Linked DNA regions of Homo sapiens: all the other regions are reported to be linked to region 1. Evidence: microRNA targets listed by miRTarBase, many of them from high-throughput screens and not tested one by one. Region 1 holds a microRNA gene; each other region holds the end of a gene's coding sequence.

Region 1 (4,151 bases):
AATGAGGGCTGGGGGGAACCACTCTTTGTGGAGGGCACCTGGTGTGGGAATGCTGCCCAAGCCTGCAGCCTGGTGGAGTTTCCAGATCTCCCCTTCCTTCAAGGCCCCCATGGAGCAGACCCCGAGTAGCGATCAGCCTCAGTTGCCTACCTCTACAATGGTCATGATGTCCATTTGTACCTCTAGTCTGGTTATGTCAAGCTGACTTGACAGCTCAGGAGGGGGCCACCAGGTGGGGACTCCCATGTGGGTTGTGGGAAGACAGAGAGGGTTCTGGGTGGACCGAATGGGGTAAATGGAGTTGGAAAGATTTAGAGCTGATGTGGTGGAATCGTTTCTTTTACACACAAAGAAACTGGGTTCATGGCGGGGCCTGGATGGCCCCAGCTTACACTGCACGCCTAAGGCGGATCTGGGATGGGGACCCAAGTCTTCCGAGGCCTGGACTTGCTGCCTCTCAAGGAATGCTCAGGAAGGGGGTCACACAGTCCTCGGTCAGGACAGATCACGTATCCTTTGCTCCTGAGCCAAAGCTATTTATATTTTGGCAGGAGGGAGAGGACAGAACAGTTGCAGTCTCAGCCCTAATCCCTGCAGCTGACTGGTGGCTGTTAGGAGAGTGTGGGGAGGCGGGAGTGGGGGCGGGGAGGTGCATTCCCCAGGAGGTTACTGTGACAGGCAGGGCCTAAGGAGGCTCTTGTCCCAGGGTGCTGTGCCTCTCTTCCTTTATTCTGCTGCTCCCATGGGCCATTCCCCCAGAGGGACCCCCTAAACCCAAGGAGAAAGGTCTTCTCAGTCCAGCCCCAGTCCTGATCTCCTGACCTGCCAGAAGGACAGGCATGTTAATGACATCTGGGGTTGCTCGACTTGCCTGCCAGGCTGGTGGCATCTCAAAGTCACATAGCAGGAGAGGACTGGTCTGGCCCCAGCACTCCTGTCTCTTACAGGCCACACAGCCCTGGGTGGGAAGCCTGGATGAGCAGTGAGTCACTCAAGCTGCCCTTCCAACCCTGCCACCACCAGCCTCATATTTCTGAAGTAGGCAGAGGGCAGGCTTTGGAATCAGGATGACAGGCTTTGAGACCTGCCCTGCCATTAGCTAGCTGTGGGAGCTTGGGCAAGTCACTGGGCCTCTCTGAGCCAATTATTTTCTCACCTGTAAATCTGGGAGATAAGCACTATTTGGAATGGCAGTAAATGGCACTCTTTCAGATTATGGATATTAATCATGCTGGATGCCAACGAGGAGGCTCAGTGGCTTCTTGGCCTTCCAGGGAAGGAGAGATGGTTGTGAGCCTCCATTGGTTGCTTGTTTGAGGAGAGGCAGTATGCAGAGTGGTTAGGAGCCCAGGCCCAGGAGTCAGAAGACTTGAATTTGAATACCAGTTCTACCACATTTCAGCTGTTTGGTCCTAGGCAAGTTGCTTCACCCCTCTGGGCCTAAATGGTCTTACCTCTACAGGGGGCTGAGTAATAATACTTCCTCAGGGCTGGGCGCGGTGGCTCGTGCCTGTAATCCCAGCATTTTGGGAGGCCAAGGCGGGTGGATCACCTGAGGCCAGGAGTTCGAGACCAGCCTGGTCAACATAGCGAAACCCCGTCTCTACTAAAGTAACTACAAAAATTAGCTGGGCGTGGTGGTGCACACCTGTGATCACCTGTGATCAGCTATTCAGGAGACTGAGGCAGGAGAATCGCTTGAACCCGGTAAGCAGAGGTTGCAGTAAGCCACGATCGCACCACTGCACTCCAGCCTGGATGACAGAGCAAGACTCCGTCTCAAAAAATATATATAAATAAAAAAATAATAAAATATAATACTTCCTCGGGGTGTGATAAGGATGGAATAAATGCTTTAATATATGCAAAGCACTGGCAGCAGGCCTGGCCTATCATTCGTGCTCAATAAACATTAGCTTTTGTTAGAGTTATTATTAAATCATTCCACCAAGAGTGGCACGCAGATAGTGGTAGAAGCCCCGGGCGAGGTTACTGCCCTTTAGAAGTTCCCAGGCTAATGAGGACGTGAAGCATGAACACAAATAATGAAGATACAAGGGAGAAAGTGGAGAAGGATGCTACCGAGGTGCAAAAATGGCACTGGGGATGGGGGGGAGAGATTGCTTCCGGCTTGGGGTATCAGGGATGCTTGCCCAAGGAGAGCGCTTATGAGAGCTGGGCTTTGAAGGATTTGGCTCAGAAGTCATGAGGGATGGGAAGGACATGCCTGGTGGAGGGGACAGAGTGAGGAAAGGCTGGGAGGGAGGAAATGAGATGCATCCTAGGGAAGAGCCCCAGAATGGTGACGAGCCCCAGCTGTGGAGTCAGCTGGCCCTGGGTGACCCTTGAACTGATTAGGAATTCCCGAAGAGAATTCACAGCTCCACTACTGACTAGTCGTGTTGCTTTATCTACAGAGCCTCAGTTTCTTTGTCTGTCCAGTGTGGGTGGTGACAATCTGGGGGGTCCTTGTGAGAGTCTAATGTGGTAGCATGCATGTGCCTGGCACAATGTTGGCACTCCGGGTTCGCAGCCGCTGTTAGTTAATGCCAGCACTCAGGCGGCCAGAGGTGGATGTAAGCCCTACATCCAGGACCTTGAAGGCCTAGGAGGAGCCATGGCAGGAGCCACGGGCACCTACCAGCATCCCTGGGGGTGGGCAGGGCTTGGTGCCGTGCTAGCATCTAACCCAGCCGCGAGCTTCCTTCTGCAGGTCCTGGAGCCCTGGCGTGGGGCGGGCCTCCTGCCGGCGAGCGCCTGCGCCCTTCCCTGGCGTGAGGGTATGTGCCTTTGGACTACATCGTGGAAGCCAGCACCATGCAGTCCATGGGCATATACACTTGCCTCAAGGCCTATGTCATCGAGGAGCCACCGGAGCTGCCACTGCCACCAGGGAGGAAGAGGAGGAGCCGGGATGTGGGATGGCAGTGGTGGGTGGGCTGCGGCAGGTTGGGCCAGCCACACCTCACTGCTTGACCGCTCTGACCCCCTTTCTTCTCTTTCCTAGGGCTACATTGGGCTCCCAGGGCTCTTCGGCCTGCCAGGGTCTGATGGAGAACGAGTAAGTTTGCTTCTTTGGTTATTCACCATCCACAGCCACCCCTGCCCAAACAGAGCAGAACCTGCCAGGCACCAGCCTGGGGAAGTCAAGGAATTCCTCCTGGAGGAGGTGCACTTGAGTCGAGTAGGAGTCTGATAAGGGGACAAGTCAAGGCAGATGCATTCCAGGCATAGGGAACAGCATGTGCGAAGTCAGGGATTTACGGTAACTTGGCGAGTTTAACACTCAACACTGCCAAAGTGCTGCGTGAGAGGGTGAGAGTGGTGGGAGTTGAGGCTGGAGAGGACCCTGGGGCAATGTCTTAGGTGCCCAGGACTAAGGTTAGAAAAGGAACTCTGTTCTGAGGGTATGCGGAGCCTCTTGAGGACTTGCAACCAATGAACACCGGGCCCACTTTATAATATAGATCAGGGGTCTGCAAACGGTGGCCCATGGGCCAAATCCAGCCAGTTGTCTGTTTTTGCAAACAGTTTTATTGAACTCAGCCTTGCTCATTTGGTTACATATTGTCAATGCCGCTTTCTCACTACAATGGCAGAGTTGAGTAGGTGTGACAGAGACCGTATGGCCCACAGAGCCAAAGATATTCACTATCTGCCCCTTTCCAGAAACCATCTGCTGATTCCTCTTTTAGACAGATCAGTTGGTTTACTTGAGTAAAATGTGTTGGTTGGGGGTGGGGACAGCAAGAGCAGGTGGCAGGAGTTCCAGCAGCCAGGGGGAGCGGCTGTCTGGGGAAGGTGGTGGGACTGGTTTGGTGGTGGGCAGTGGGTGCTAAGATTTCCTAAGACACCCTGTCCTTCCAGACCAAGTATCTAAGTCAGAGGAGTCCAAAAGATGGTGTGGGAGCTTCTCACAGACCCCTGGCCCAGCCTGGAGGTCCATTAGAAGCCCCTGGGGTGGTGGCCTCGGGATCTTCCTCCCCGCCCCCTCCCAACCTGAGCCCGTATCTATGGGAACTCACTTGTAACCTCCATAAGCTGGGTATAGAGAACCTTAGGACAGCTGGAGCCTGAGCATTTATGAAGCACCTGCTGATTACAGGAACTGGCATTTCTCTGTCTCTTAGGTCACCACAGACCCCGACCCT
Region 2 (4,000 bases), not on the chromosome of region 1:
AGGCAGGTAGGCTAGGGGGTGCCTATTGGAGGAGGAGTGACCCTTGACCTGTAGGGCTTGACCTGTTTCTCTTTCCTGTGCAGCCATTGACCTCATCAACAACCTGCTGCAGGTGAAGATGCGCAAACGCTACAGCGTGGACAAATCTCTCAGCCACCCCTGGTTACAGGTGATGCAGGGGGCAGGGCTGGCCCATTGGCTGGATTGGAGGAAGGGGTGGGAGTAGATCGCTTATTGGCTAGGCAGGTTGTGAAGGATGTAGGTTTCCTTGGGTCTGGAATGTGGCTAGGCCTCCCATTGGCTGGGTGCAGGAAGAGGGGGTGGAGCTAAATGTCTACTGGCTGGGTGGGTTGCAGAGGGTATGGCTTCACCTTCATTGGTACCCAGCTCTCAGTGGCAAACCAGAGGATATCCAGGCACTGCTCCAATGCAGACCCCAAGCTAACCCCAGTTCTCTCGGGCCCAGGAGTACCAGACGTGGCTGGACCTCCGAGAGCTGGAGGGGAAGATGGGAGAGCGATACATCACGCATGAGAGTGACGACGCGCGCTGGGAGCAGTTTGCAGCAGAGCATCCGCTGCCTGGGTCTGGGCTGCCCACGGACAGGGATCTCGGTGGGGCCTGTCCACCACAGGACCACGACATGCAGGGGCTGGCGGAGCGCATCAGTGTTCTCTGAGGTCCTGTGCCCTCGTCCAGCTGCTGCCCTCCACAGCGGTTCTTCACAGGATCCCAGCAATGAACTGTTCTAGGGAAAGTGGCTTCCTGCCCAAACTGGATGGGACACGTGGGGAGTGGGGTGGGGGGAGCTATTTCCAAGGCCCCTCCCTGTTTCCCCAGCAATTAAAACGGACTCATCTCTGGCCCCATGGCCTTGATCTCAGCACACGGCACTCTCGAATCATTACTCTGTTGTACCAACATGGAGTTCATCTGGAAGGAGGACTGCCTGAAAAGAGGAAGGATGGAAGGGGTGGGGAGAGAGGACTGATGGGAGAGGAGTCTTGGAAGGAGGACGAGCTGGGGTAGAAAATATACAGGAAGAGTGCCAGGAGAGAAGATGAGAAGGGAGAGGGAGGAGTAATGGAGGAGGAGTTGGAAACTGGGGAGAGATGGAAGGAATGTGACTGGAGGGTAGAGAACTTGGAGAAAAAGTAATCTCATGGTTTGTGATGACTGATTTTTTATTTGGTGGTGGTGTTACTACTAATCACAACTATTAATTCAGGCTGGGTGTGGTGGCTCATGCCTATAATCCCAGCAATTTGGGAGGCCGAGGCAGGCAGATCCCTTAGATCTCAGGAGTTTGAGAGCAGCCTGGCCAACGTGGTGAAACTCCCTTTCTACAAAAAGTTCAAAAATTAGCCAAGTGTGGTGGCTTGCACCTGTGGTCCCAGCTACTTGGAGGTTGAGGCTAGAGGATCGCTTGAGCCCAGGAAGCAGAGATTGCAGTGAGCCAAGATCACACACCACTGCACTCTAGCCTGGGCAAGAGAGTGAGACCCTGTCTCAAAAGTCAAATAATAAAATGCAGTTAGCCCAAGTCTGATCCATACTAGAAAACTGATACGTAACATTCAGTATTTTATTTTATGTTGATGTGATGACTTCTCTATCTATGAAATAGAGAAGTATATATTCACTCATTCCTTTGTGTCACTGAGCTGGGTGATGCTGGGGACACAGTGGTGACTGAGACAGCCAAGGACTGCCCTGCCAGTAGAGAGACATACCTGCCCCTGGACAGTGATGACCCAGAACGGGAAGGGCTGGACTGGGGGAGTTTGGGAGGCTTGGGCAGCCTAGAATGAGCTCAGGGGTCAGAGAGAGTGGGGAATCAGAGGTGACCTCTTAGGCTTCATCTTGGCCTTGAAAGACTGAAGGCAGAGGGAATGAACTGGAGGGAACACGTATCCACCTCTCTCTACCTTTGACTCCAGCCCTCCACCTCCCCAGTTCTCCAGTAACACCCTAACACATGGTCCTCCACCTTCCACAGCTGAAGGTGAACGATCCGAGCATGGACCTGAACAAGTTTTCTTCAGACTTTCAGAACGCTCTGACTTACGTGCTGCAAAGACCTATCTGAAAGCTGGGCATGGTGGCGGGTGACTGTATTCCCAGCTACTTAAGCGGCTGAGGTGGGAGGATCGCTGGAGTCCAGGAGTTCGAGTCCAGTTTGGGCAACACAGCCTTAAAAAACCCAGGAAAACAGGAAAGAATTTAGTAGCCAATTTAGGCTAATACTGGGAGCTTACTCTGGGATTTTCCAATTTGATTTGTATCACCTTGTCCATCTGATGGTTCCAGAGCTGCAGCTTTTTTTTTTTTTCCTGAGGCAGGGTCTCTGTTTCCCAGGCTGGAGTGCAGTGGCATGAACACAGCTCACTGCAGCCTTGACCTTCTGGGCTCAAGTGATCCTCCCACCTCAGCCTCCTGAGTAGCTAGAACTACAGGCACATGCCACCATGCCCAGCTAATTTTTTGGATTTTTTGCAGAGGTTTTACCATGTTGCCCAGGCTGGTCTCAAACTCCTGGGCTCAAGCGATCTGCCTGCCTAGGCCTCCCAAAGTGCTGGGATTACATGCATGAGCCACTGCGCCTGGCCAAAATGCAGCTCTTTGATTTGAAAATGCTAAACGAGCCTCAGTAAATGAAGGTATCCAAAGGAGCAGTATACCTCTGAGGCATAGTTGCTAAGACTATTGGGGAAAGGCTCTTAGACTCCATCCCCAGTGCCTATCCCTCTGTTTAGTCTAAGGTCCAGAAGTGTAGGCAACATAGAGATGAATCCATCTCCCGTGACAGACCCAGGCTAGAAAATGTATGGAAAAGACTATCACCCCTGATCTGCTTCTGTCTTGGCCACTAGTTAATATCCAGAGACCAGAAATGAGAGACGTGATTCAAAAACATTCCTCAATTATAGAATTCCAGGAGATAGTGTATATCATGAGGATGCCATGAAAGATAAAATCAAGGCCGGGCGCAGTGGCTCACGCCTGTAATCTCAGCACTTTGAGTGCTGAGGTGGGTGGATCATCTGAGGTCAGGAGTTTGAGACCAGCCTGATCAACATGGAGAAACCCCGTCTCTACTAAAAATACAAAATTAGCCGGGCATGGTGGCACATGCCTGTAATCCCAGCTACTCGGGAGGTTGAGGCAGGAGAATCGCTTGAATCTGGGAGGCGGAGGTTGCGGTGAGCTGAGATCGTGCCACTGCACTCCAGCCTGGGCAACAAGAGCGAAACTCTGTCTCAAAAAAAAAAAAAAAAATCAAATCCATACAATGAAAACTTAGGGCCCTATAACTTAAATCATTAGAGACAAAAAGTTTATCCTATCAGGACCACTGGAATCACAAAACCTAATTTTGTTTGTTAGAGACAGGGTCTTGCTCTATCACCCAGGCTTCTGTGCAGTGGTATGATCGTAGCTCACTGCAGCCTCAAACTACAGGGTTCAAGCCATCCTCCCCCTCAGCCTCTTGAGTAGCTGGGACTACAGGCATGAGCCACCACACCTCGCTAATTTTTTGTTTTTTATGTAGTTTTTAATTTTTTTATTATTTTATTATTTTTTGAGATGGAATCTTGCTCTGTTGCCCAGGCCAAAGTGCAGTGGCATGATCACAGCTCACTGCAGCCTCAACCTCCTGGGCTCAAGTGATCTTCCCACCTCAGCCTCCCAAGTAGCTAAGACTACAGGCACATGCCACCACGCCCAGCTAATTTTTGTATTTTTAGTAGAGAAGGGGTTTTGCCATGTTGGCCAGGCTGGTCTCGAACTCCTGACCTCAAGTGATCTGCCCACCTCGGCCTCCCAAAGTGCTGGGATTACAGGCATGAACCACCGTGCCCGGGCATGTTTTTTATTTGTTATAGAGATGGGGTCTCACTATGTTGCCGAGGCTGGTCTTGAACTCCTGGGGTTGAACGATCCTCCACCTCTCAAAAGTGCTGGGATTACAGGTGTGGGCCACTGCACTCAACCTCAA
Region 3 (4,000 bases), not on the chromosome of region 1:
CCTGGCTGATCTTGCCAAAGTTCCCTGTCTCTCACACACACAGGCCTCCTGTACCTTAAGTAATATGAACTTCTAACTAAGCCAACACAGTTGGCTCAGCAACCAGATGAGTGTTCAACTGCTCACTAACATACAGTAAACTCAACTCAATTTCTCCCAGAAATTGAAAAAGATGCTGTATTTTTCTAAAAGCACCATCTAGTGGCCAAAACTCATAGCATTATTTGATAACAGGTATAGGAGACATTCTCCTCAACATAAAGACTGAAAGAATTTTCGAGGCTTTAGAAGTAACATTTACATGTTAGACAAAACTTCATGATGTCAAATAGAAAGGGTAAACGTTTGAGATGAGTTAGAAGTTGAACCCTGTTAAACTGGGGATGCATTCTGCCAGGTTGGTTGTGAGAACCTGTGACATAGTATCTTCGCTTTCCAGTTGAAAATGTGCAAACTACTTTAGATAAAGATAAGCTCCTCATCATGTTGGCTGTACATCAGTAGCTTAACCACATTTTCTTCTCAAGTGAAAAGCCACCATGCTGCTTTGGGCACTAATGCTCAAGCATAACTTGCTTCAGGAAATCTAGGAGTAAATTTAATAGCTTGAAAATTCAGGTTTGTAAAGAGCACAGAGGACACACACAAGTGGCTGACTCTAATAACACAGGAGAAAATACATAGTATTTCTTGGGGGCACAAACACCAGTGTCTTAATTCTCTCAAGAACATAGGTTCAGATTCTCTTCAACTTGGCTGAGTGAAGAGCTACATTCTACCTTCCTTCACAGCCAAAGGTAGCATCAGGAACATTTATGACAAACTGGTCATATTTGACCTTTTACTGACATTTGGGAGCATTCTGCGTTCCCAGCTTTCCCTTCTCCCTCCAAACTAATACATCGTCTATCTGTAGAGAAAACTTATAGTTCTCTATATAACTAACTTTATATTCATCTCGTAGAGAATGAAGAAGTAAAATATTTAGCTTCCAGTCTGATCTTCAAGGGCTAGAACATGTTTAGGTTTTTTTTTTTTTTTTTTTTTTTTTGGTTGAATGGAGGATTAGAGAATAACTACTATCCCCATCAAGTATATTCCCTTGCCTTTCCAGAGGCTTCACGGAGCGACAGGTTTTTTAACCACCAGGAGGCACAAGACAATTATGATGCAGAGTGCTCAAGTTTCTGGATCTTGAGTTTGTGATGTGATGCCAAAGTTTAACACAAGTAACTTGGGACAGGCTGAGAATAGTTTCAGGTAAAAGGAACTAATTGAACAGCAGGAACTTTTTTTTTTTTTTTTTTTTTTTGATAGTCTTCCTCTGTTGCCCAGGCTGGAGTGCAATGGCACGATCTCGGCTCACCGCCTCCTGGGTTCAAGCGATTCTCCTGCCTCAACATCCCGAGTAGCTGGGATTACACACCTGGTTAATTTTTGTATTTTTTAGTAGAGATGGGGTTTCAGCATGTTGGTCAGGCTGGTCTTGAACTCCTGACCTCGTGATCCGCCTGCCTCAGCCTCCCAAAGTGCTGGGATTACATGCGTGAGCCACCGCACCCGACCGGAACATTCTTAATGAAAAGTTCTACACTGTTCAAGAATACTAGGCTCTTTCTGTCACAAGCCACAGTTCTCTAAGGGCCCACAGTAAGTTGTGAGGAAGTGGGCTCAGTCCTCTGAAATGGTGGCCAAGGTTTAACAGTGCTTTTGAGGGCCAGGTCTCCAAAACTATCACTGAACTGAACGATGGGTTAAATAAGCTCTGAGGCATGAGGGCTAGCAGCCCACTATCCCACTTGATTCGGTGTCCCATGAGAAGAATGCTGTGTTCCAAACTAACTTACCAGCAATTTGTAAATGTTGAAAACCTTAAGACTGAAAAGTGAAAATCCTATTGTCCTCTAACATTCTGCTCAATTTGCAGCTACTGGACTACAAATGAAATACTGACTCTAAACTCAGTTTTATCCCTAGCTGTCTACATAACACAACTATGTCCTCATCTGTTAAATAGGAGGAAGTTTCATAGTATCTGTATCATTTTACAGATACTATGAACATATGCAGTTGTAAACTTCTTAGAGCTCCTACAATTCAGATGAATTAAACAGATGAAGATCAGGATGAGAAATTTTTAAAATGTCTATCTGTGAAGCCAATCCTTTGCTATCTTCCCTCCCACTCCCTTTACTGACATGTGAGTAAATGCTTCCCATTTAATTGGATTTTAAGGTCATAAAACAGGTAAGTCAACCCTACCACAAGAATTTTTTACAAATCAGATGATGACCTGAAAATACTCTTGTTCTGCTAAATCTGAACATTACAAAATGGCTAAAAATGACATTTTAAAGATAGGGGTCTGAGCCTACTCTCACAAGCAGTCACATTAAGATGTAAATTTACTATTTGGAGGATTCACAGTGCACCAGTGAAAAAATATCACGAAAGAAAAATTCTTATGTCTAAAACCTATATCCCTCGATCACATTCAGATCCTCTTCATGTTTTATTTTCAGTAAGTGTATTCTTGGTCTTTCTATTGTTTTCTCTAGTTGAAATAGCAGTGCCTAGCCAATCAGGAACCTGTACCTCTTCACAACCAGAAAAAAGTCACAAAAACAAAAGTTAAGGACAACTTTTTATTGCTACCAGAGGCTTTTATCATCAGTACACAGTTCTGACTGCAATACCTTTTTCAGACTGCAAAGGGAGCTCAGGATCCAGAAGTCATTAAAAGAAACATAAGGCTGGGGAGGCAGGGGGAGTAAGTTCTATTAGAAAATCCTAATAGCTTAACAAAACTAGGGTACTAAATTCAGTTATAACATGTTACAGACTTAAATCATAGAGCTGCCCCAACATCTAGACAGTCTCTCCTACTGATTATAAATGAGTGAAAACTATCAGTTAGAAAAATCTAATTTAAGTTGTTAATACATGTTTCTTTGGTGAGCACCTGGATATATTTATCACAAATTCTTTTATACAAATGTCGAAAATGCTTTCAACAAACCTAAGTGTCCTAATTACATGCCACTTTTAAGCATCACTTTAAGGTAAACAAAAATGAAAACCATAATTTTAAATTAAAATTTGAAATGAGACACAAAATCAACCTGGTAATATGAGAACTTTTTCTTTTGCCATCTCTGATTAATATGGGACAATTCCAAAGTACCCTTTTCAGACTAATTGGAACTTGAGTCATGGCTGTCACACTGAAATAATTTGTTCATTCAACTGCAGTGAAAATCAATATAGATCAACATGCATAAAGTTCAGTAACTATTAAATGGAGAAGCAAGCAAAAGCAACAGGAAAATTAAATCAGGATGCTGAGGGGGAACAGGATTGCTGGCCATGAATTTTAATTGAATTTTTGACGGGGCAAGCTACGTTACATTATGGCAGAAAAAAAGTGCAACTGACATACTACAAAGAGATTTTTTAAGTTTAAAAAAAGTTTGGATCTTTTGGATTTCTTTTTTTTTTTTTTGGTCTTTATGTGCTTAAATAACGCTGAATTATAATTAGCCACACAAATAATGAGAGTTTTATTTTTTTTTTCTGGCTCACTCCAAATCAGCCTGTTAAGGTATATTTCCTTCTACAGCCTTTCCTGATTTTGCATGTTCTCATTCCCAAAGTAGTCTACCTTAGTTTACACTCAAAGGTAGCACTTGTTGAAACTACATGACAGAAACAGGCTGCAAAGGTGGACAAGGGGAAGCATGTCCCTCTTGTCTTGATAAATCAGTGCCACACACAGAACCCACATTTTCTGAGACATTATCTTCATTATAGAGCCGTTTGATTCCATCATAGAAGTCATCCACTTCCATTTCCTCTACTTTGCGTTTAGTAGAGGTCTGCTTGCACCCACTGGCAGCTGGGAGATGATGGTAAAAGGCTGCTGTACCTCTGACTGGCACTTCTGGCTTGCTGTTGTCCTTGGAGAAGTCTGGGCCTGGGACAGAGGAGGGATGTAATCTGA

The links. Region 1 holds the annotated microRNA hsa-miR-455-5p (UAUGUGCCUUUGGACUACAUCG, at 2,782-2,803, shown strand). A microRNA usually pairs through its seed, bases 2 to 8, with sites in the 3' UTR of a target mRNA and lowers its output. Matches are read on the target gene's strand: a 7mer-m8 pairs with bases 2 to 8, a 7mer-A1 pairs with bases 2 to 7 and ends in A, and an 8mer does both.
Region 2: the mRNA of PRKD2 is a reported target of hsa-miR-455-5p. The part of its 3' UTR that is shown has no 7-base or 8-base seed match.
Region 3: the mRNA of CCNI is a reported target of hsa-miR-455-5p. Seed matches in the 3' UTR shown: 7mer-A1 at 3,509-3,515.

The regions. Positions count from the first base shown.
Region 1 is chr9:114,206,668-114,210,818 of GRCh38, forward strand. It overlaps MIR455 (microRNA 455), which reads left to right and starts at 2,767; the gene lies at 2,767-2,862. It overlaps COL27A1 (collagen type XXVII alpha 1 chain), which reads left to right. Exons shown (of 61, transcript NM_032888.4): 11 at 3,008-3,061.
Region 2 is chr19:46,671,202-46,675,201 of GRCh38, reverse strand. PRKD2 (protein kinase D2) reads left to right here. Exons shown (of 18, transcript NM_016457.5): 17 at 84-169; 18 at 467-886. The coding sequence ends at 679. The region is part of intron 2 of DACT3-AS1 (DACT3 antisense RNA 1); the gene reads right to left. Among named protein-coding and RNA genes, the nearest start is that of DACT3, 12 kb to the right of the region's middle.
Region 3 is chr4:77,044,524-77,048,523 of GRCh38, forward strand. CCNI (cyclin I) reads right to left here. Exons shown (of 7, transcript NM_006835.3): 7 at 2,632-4,000. The coding sequence ends at 3,696. Among named protein-coding and RNA genes, the nearest start is that of CCNI, 29 kb to the right of the region's middle.